2 linked regions of the Homo sapiens genome follow. The protein of the gene in region 2 purifies or fractionates together with the protein of the main gene of each other region. This does not show direct contact. Each region holds a gene or a part of one and is shown on either strand. Other genes may lie near its edges. The genes, in order: THEMIS2 and EIF4E3.

Region 1 (3,816 bases), on a different chromosome or scaffold from region 2:
AGCGCCGGCTGTCACTCATCTCCTCCACGAAACTGCCAGGGAAGTGGAAGGGCAGCAGGACCCGCTCTGGGCTCTCTGCCTCCTCTTTGCACTCTTCCTCCTCATCCTCCCCAGCCTGGTCACTCAGCCGCTGACAAACCAAGACATCCACGTCACTGCCCTGGGCCCCATGGGCCTGGCCAGGCCCCAGCACCTCCAGCCGGTCACCCACAGCCAGGGACGTGAACTCGGGATTCTCCTCCCTCTCGCCCTCACAGTCCTTTGTGGCCACCACCCGGAGTGGCCGGCCTGGCTGGAAAGCACCTAGGAGGTCATAGGCCGTGGGGAACTCCCTTGGCCGCCGCCGCAGCTTGCCTTGGTAGCCCCCTGACACCAGGAAGTGCCTGGGCACCTTGCGGCCCTTGCTTGAGGCCAGGACCCGCCAGGGTGGTGAGGCTAGGCCATAGACGCAAAGCCTCTGGCCTTTTTGCAAGGAGCCCACCCACGGGCTGAGGAAGATGGGGCGGCCCTCAGGAACCTCCAGGATCTCCATGGACAGGGGGAAAGGGCCTTCCCAGGCCAGGACCTCGCTCAGCAGCAGCGGTTTGATAAAGTGGACGTGCCGGGAGGAGGCGGTGACGTCCTCCACGTCGACCTCCAGGGTAGAAGGGATCTTGACAATGGTCCTGCGCACTGTGGAGAGGGGCAGCTCAGTGGCACTGCATGCCACCCCAGGAGTGGCCCCCACCCCAGGCATAGAGCATTGGCTGGGCCGGCTGGCCTCCCTCCCGCTGCTGTCTTTTCTTTCTTTTTTTTTTTTTGAGATGGAGTTTCACTCGAGATGGAGTGCCCTTGTCGCACAGGCTGGAATGCAATGGCACAGTCTCGGCTCACTGCAACCTCCACCTCCCAGATTCAAGCAGTTCTTCCACCTCAGCCTCCCGAGTAGCTGGGATTACAGGCGCCCGCCACCATGCCCAGCTAATTTTTGTAGTTTTAGTAGAGATGGGGTTTCACCATGTTGGCCAGGCTGGTCTCGAACTCCTGTCCTCAGGTGATCCTCCCACCTTGGCCTCCCAAAGTGCTGGGATTACAGGCATGAGCCACCACGCCCGGCCCCCGCTGCCATCTTTTCTTTCCAATCAGAATCTTCCAATTTACACTACGCCACATTCCCACACATGCTTTCCCTTCAACCTTCTTTTTTTTTTTGAGATGGAGTCTCGCTCTTGTCGCTCAGGCTGGAGTGCAGTGGTGCGATCTTGGCTCACTGCAAGCTCTAGCCCCTGGGTTCACGCCATTCTCCTGCCTCAGCCTCCCAAGTAGCTGGGACTACAGGTGCCCGCCACCACACCCGGCTAATTTTTTTGTATTTTTAGTAGAGACGGGGTTTCACCATGTTAGCCAGGATGGTCTTGATCTCCTGACCTCGTGATCCACCTGCCTCGGCCTCCCAAAGTTCTAGGATTACAGGCGTGAGCCACTGTGCTTGGCCCCAACCTTCTTAAAAAAATTACTATTTTTATTTTTTTTCCTCCAAGTATTAAGAAAAAAGAAAAATAAATTTTAAAATTATTATTTTTAGGCTGTGCTCGGTGGCTCACGCCTGTAATCCCAGCACTCTGGGAGGCCGAGGTGGGCAGATCACCTGAGGTCAGGAGTTCCAGACCAGCCTGGCCGATATGGCGAAACCCTGTCTCTACTAAATATACAAAAAAATTATCTGGGCATGGTGGCGGGCGCCTATAATCCCAACTACTAGGGAGGCTGAGGCAAGAGAATCGCTTGAACCTGGGAGATGGAGGTTGCAGTGAGCTGAGATCAACCATTGTACTCCAGCCTGGGTGACAGAGCAAGACTCTGCTTCAAAAAAGAGAGAGATGAGGTCTCGCCCTGTTGCCCAGGCTGGAGTGCAAGGGTGTGATCATAGCTCACTACAACCTTGAACTCCTGGGCTCAAGTGATCCTCCTGCCTCAGCCTCCAGAGTAGCTGCTACTACAAGCACTAAGCCTAGCTAATTTTTTAAAAAAATTTTTGTAGAGATGGGGGTCTTGCTATGTTGCCTAGTCTGGTCTGGAACACCTGAGATCAAGCGATCCTCCAAAGTGCTGGTATTACATGCGTGAGCCACTGCACCTGGCGTAGCCGAGATAATTTGAGCATCAATAAGAATAACTGGCCAGGAACGGTGGCTCACGCCTGTAATCCCAGCACTTTGGGAGGCCAAGGCGGGTGGACCACCTGAGGTCAGGAGTTCAAGACCTGCCTCGCTAACATGGTGACACTCCGTTTCTACTAAAAATACAAAAAATTAGCCGGGCATGGTGGTGCACGCCTGTAATCCCAGCTACTCGGGAGGCTGAGGCAGGAGAATCGCTTGACTCTGGAGGGTGAGCCAAGATCACACCATTGCACTCCAGCTTGGGCAACAAGAGCGAAACTCCATCTCAAAAAAAAAGAATAACTTCAGTGTAATACAGAGGGAGCAACCTGAAGTTCCAGCTGATCCTCAGGGATGGGGTGGGGGTGTCTTCCATCAGAGCAGCTCCCAGGGGCAACCCTCTTTCTCTCCCCCAGCAGCGCGCATCCATCTGCCCAGGCAACTCACTGTGCATGATGGCTTGGATCTCATACTGGGGCCGCAGGATCAGGGAATGCCAGGGCAGGGTGGGGCAGGTGAGGACGAGGTCTTTCAGGGCTGGATCCTGTAGGACCTGGAGCAGAGTTCGAGGGGCACTAGGCTCCCATGTCCAGAAGGGCCCCTTCTGGGATAGGGGCAGGTGCAGGATGACCTGCTGACCCTCCATGCCCAGGACACAGCGGGCAGAGCGGATCCCGAGGTGCATCACCACAGCCTCAAGCATGAGGAGCTGGTCCTCAGTCACCACCCTGCCCTCTGTGACAATCCTGTGGGTCGACATGAAGCAAGTGGGCAGCTGCTTGGAGCTCTGAGTTGTGGCAGAGACCAGCTCCTCCAGGGTTTCATAGCTCTGTGGGGTGTTGAGGGGGGTGAAGTAGCCTGTGGGGGACAGCAGAGAGCAGGCAGGTCACTGTGGGGTGTCAGGGTGGGGCAGGCCTTTGTCAGGTCCAGACCCCAGTCTGGCCCTGCAGATGACCCAGCCAGAATCCCCCAGGGACAGGTGTCAATGACAGATTTGCATCTGGACATCTGGGCTGCAGGGCTGAGGGACACAGGGCAGAAAGTGGCAGTGCATGAAGGGACAGGGAGAGACAGGAAGTAGGAACCGAGAGAGACTTGTCACCAGAGACACAGAGAATGGAAGAGGGACACATTCCCTGACAGACACACTAGACTTCCACACTCTCCAAGCTCCTGACCCTACCTGCCTCTAACTGCCATCTTAGCCTTTCCTCCAGATGCCTCTCCACAGGTCCGATCCCACTCATCCAAAACCTGCCGTCCCTCTCTCCCAAACGAACATCCCAGGAGCTGCTGGCCAGAGCCACCTCAGACCACCCACTTTACCCCTGCATCCTGGCTGCCAATAGTGACTGCCCGACTGTCCCTGCACCCCCTCCCTCCAGCCCCCACCCATTCCGCCAGCAGCTGGCCTAAATACCTCGCTTCCAGACATGATACCGCTTTTGGGAAGCAAGCTTTTCCTGCCCCAAACCCACAACCTGAAGCTAATCGAGGAAACACTGCACAAGCTGGGACTGAGGGATATTCTACATAAGTACTGGTCCAGATGCTTCAAAATGTCAATGTCAAGACAAAGGCAGAGGAACTGTTCCAGTCTGAAGGAGAATGAAGAAACAGGACAACTGAATATGATGTGTGATCTAGGACTGGACTCTGGATTGAGGGGAAAAAC
Region 2 (3,816 bases):
ATTGTAGCACTAAAGCAGCTATAGGTAATACGGAAACAAATGGGTATTGCTCTATGCTGATAAAACTTTATTTATGGACACTAAAATTTGATATTCATATAATTTTCATGTGTTACAAAATATACTTTTTCTTTTTTTTCCAACCACTGAAAAATGTAAAAAGCATTCTCAGCTATACCTATACAGAAACAGGAGAGCGGAGAGGGTAACACAGAGGGCAGATTTGGGCTCCAGCTTCCTGCTGTAAACAATTCTCACACCAGAAAAGACCTTTGTCACTCAGCTGTTCTGAAGAACTTAGCAGAATTGGCCAGGGTGGGGCTGGTCAGTGAGTGGAGTCTGTGCATTGTGAGTTTCTCAGTCAAATAATGTGTATCCATATCAAATGTAAGTTATCAATGGCCCAATGCCCATCTACCCGCTAGAGGCCATGACTGAATATGCTTGGGTTCTTTCTACATGGAAAATCTACAGTCACCTGGCTTATGTAAACTTGGGAATACTTACACTAGGATCCTATTAACCAAACCAGAGTAAAAGCATACATTGGCCATTTCTAACTTAGCTTACCCTGCTGTGAAAAAGATTTCAGCCCAAATCTTATTTTTCCAAATTACTTCTGCAGCAAGTAGTGTATACCCTGCTGAGTAAAGGACTGCCTGCTTTGTTTACAATAAAGAAAACTGCTTGTTTTTTTTCAAATTCAGATTTTTATTTGAACAATCTTTGAGTTTTTAAATGCCAATTTATGCCCTTAAAGTATGAATTTCTGCTGAGACCCTTCCTCAGTTCTGTATTACATACTTTGCAATGGCCCCTACCTTTAGGTATCTATTTGATTTAACTGGCCAAGTTGCAGTTTTCTTTCCCCTTGTTTGGCTTTTTTCTTTCCCAGAGCCATCACAACAGCTAAGCAGTGAATCATCCTGCCCTTTGACAATCTTATCTGATTATTGCCATGGCCCTAAAAACTAGCCTAACCACTTTGTGGCCTTATTATCTGATAAAACAGATATCTTATTATCTGTGTTGAGCCTGCTGCTAACCAATGTGCTACCTGGAAACTTAATCATAGAATTTTGCAGTAGAAGGAACCTTGGAGATCATCTAAGACCAACCTCCTCGATACTCAGATGAGAAAGGTAAAGGATGAGAAGTTGTGACTTGCTCAAGGTCACACTGGTGAAGTGGGACAAAAACCTAAAGTGCCTGACTTAACGACCCCAAATTGGTGTTCTCCTCTTTAGAGTCAAGTGTGGAGCTGGTTCAAAGGTGGGAAAAAATGTTTTAGCCCCATACATAAATGCCAATGAAATACACTTCCGTCTATAGAGTTTCTGCTAGTCTTGTGAAATAAAAAAAAAGAAAAAACCCTTGATGACCTTTCAATTAATATCTGGGGTGAAAATACAATTAAAGTATCCCTAAAGAATAAAAATGGCATCGGCAAATTGGCAACTTCTACACCACGCAGCCAATAAGCAACTTCTGCAGTGCCATTTTTCTGTCTCTTTTAAACTTCCATTTAAAATTCAGAATATCTGTAGTGCCAGATCAGTCCCACTGCTTAACATCTAGGTCATTTGGCCTGTAATTATATGATTCCTTACAGGGAGGCCTTAGTGTTAATATCCCCTGTCATACTAGGATACTCACAAAACAAAATTTGATTTTTTTATCCTTTTTTGGCAAAGAGTTGGAAAAAGTGAAGCAATAATGAAATGTATTTCAGCAATTCTAAGACGCACTCCTCACAACTACCACACATATATTTGAAGACCTCTGGTACCAATAATGTGTTACAGTTTAATTGGGAGCCTTTTATTTTTCTTTTTCAGTAATACTAAAATAATGGAGCATTTTATCTTCAAGAGCATCTTAGATTCAATGAAATACGGTAGTTAAAAAATGGGTTACTGACTCCAGGAACAGTTTTGGATATAGGAAATTTATCATACATGTGTAGGGCTGTCGTCCTTTTCTCTAACTCTGTTAAATGTGTGACCTGCAGTCTGATCTACCAAACATTGGTTTAATAGCACTAAGATGTTTTCATTATGAAAAAGAAGACTTTTTCAAAAGAGCACACAAAAGCAATGAAAATGAATCATGATGGAAAACAATGGGTCCACACACCTATTCATACTGTTAACATTTCACCACTAGGCGTGAATTCTCCCTCAGTTCTGTGTCATAGTCATTCATAATGAGGAAGTATTAGCATTTCAGTAGAACATTCAATCACGCCTGTGCTCAGAATGCATTTCTTCTGCAAATACAGATGTTATACATTATAAATTCCTGTTTATGAAGGGATGATTGAATATCTACCTGCCAGTTCATATAATGACATTTTTGTTATTGTTGTTTCCAATAGAATGTAATTTTTTTTCTGAGAATTACAAATTTGAGTTCAGGTACAAATTTTTGAAATAACAAATACAATATTTGTTATTTCGTTTTCTGATCCACGCAGTTAGGCAAGAATAAAATCTTACTTTAATTTCTGAGACTAAGCTTGTTTTTTTTAAAAAAAAAAAAAACTTAAATGTATTTTGTTGAATTATTTTCTGAATTATCAAATTTCAAGTAAATCTGCCTTCACCACATTTGCAAAACAGTTTCTATCTTTAAAAGTATGATAGAGTAAGCTAGAAAGTAATAACTGGAAATGAAGCACTTACGTTTATAAAATACTGCTTTAAAAGTTATGTGGGGCAGAAGTTCATAGATCTTTTCTAAAACAGTCGCTTCACCCACTAAAGAGGCATTTACATTCCAGACTTGGACGACGTCTTCTCGGTCCCGAACACTGACACTAACTCCTATTACTTCATCATCTGAGGGGAAGACAGGAAAAAAAAAAAATGAGTGATACTTCCAAGTCAGTCTGACTGTTTCTAAGAACTTAGTCTTTTTATCTGAAAATTAAGGATAAGATGGAAAAAAGAAGGTGGCACAAGATAACTTGTAAGAAATAATTGTTTCTATGGGGAATCACTGGAGGAAAGCAAGTCAGTGCACAAAAGCTGTAGCAGTCACATCACATTTATCCAGGGACTTAGATAAAGTGTTCCAGCCAAATGCATTTTCCAGATAAGTAATTTACCCTTTTTAACATTACCAAAGCTTTGTGACTATTTCTTACTCTGTTTTGATGAGACTTTTTCTAAAATGGGTTGCATAATTCCCTGCCCTCTGAAAGCCAAGTGAACTGAAATGAACTTTTCCTTGATGCCTTGCTGTCTTTGTTAAGGAGAGCAAGAATTTCTCCTGACTTCCTGCCAAGCTTTCAGGGACCTTGGAGTGGTCAGCGCTATCTGCCCCAACACGAACTGGAGCCAGATTGTGCATTCTCGACTGCTCATCTGCTTTCTGCGGTTTACTTGTCTGCTCCTTTCCTATGAATTCTTCCTGCTTCCTGATGCCTCCCTCTAGAAATCCCTTTTCTGGTTTTGGGCATTATATACTGTGGGCTAGAGAGCCAATGACCATCTGTTAGCACTGTGTATAGAGTGAGAGTAAAATCTTCTGAGTACAGCTCTGCTATTATAGGATCGTCCTTCAATGAATGAACGTTAAGGCATTTATCCACATTGATTAAGGTGGACTTTTTTTAAAAAACAAAATTCCAGATTAGGGCTGTCTTGCACATAGTTGAGAACGGCGGATGGATAGTAAGGTGTTATACTGTTTTATCCTCCCTTGCAGCCACTTTGTTTACATAAATTTGCAGCAAAATGAAAGGAATACAAACTTTTGATTCTTTGTTTCCTTGTTCATGACACGGTAATGCAATACGGTCAGCTCTCTGCA

What was found.
Region 1: the proteins of EIF4E3 (region 2) and THEMIS2 purify together in Homo sapiens (affinity purification with mass spectrometry; 3 studies listed by BioGRID and IntAct, with this or other methods). This does not show direct contact.

Annotation. Positions count from the first base shown.
Region 1 is NC_000001.11:27,878,827-27,882,642, reverse strand, and holds part of THEMIS2 (protein THEMIS2), read right to left. Parts: intron 3,000-3,816; coding exon 2,589-2,999; intron 673-2,588; coding exon 1-672. UniProt on the Homo sapiens protein: May constitute a control point in macrophage inflammatory response, promoting LPS-induced TLR4-mediated TNF production. Determines the threshold for activation of B cells by low-affinity and low-avidity ligands via PLCG2 activation and its downstream pathways.
Region 2 is NC_000003.12:71,687,326-71,691,141, forward strand, and holds part of EIF4E3 (eukaryotic translation initiation factor 4E type 3), read right to left. Parts: intron 2,841-3,816; coding exon 2,685-2,840; intron 1-2,684. UniProt on the Homo sapiens protein: Recognizes and binds the 7-methylguanosine-containing mRNA cap during an early step in the initiation of protein synthesis. May act as an inhibitor of EIF4E1 activity.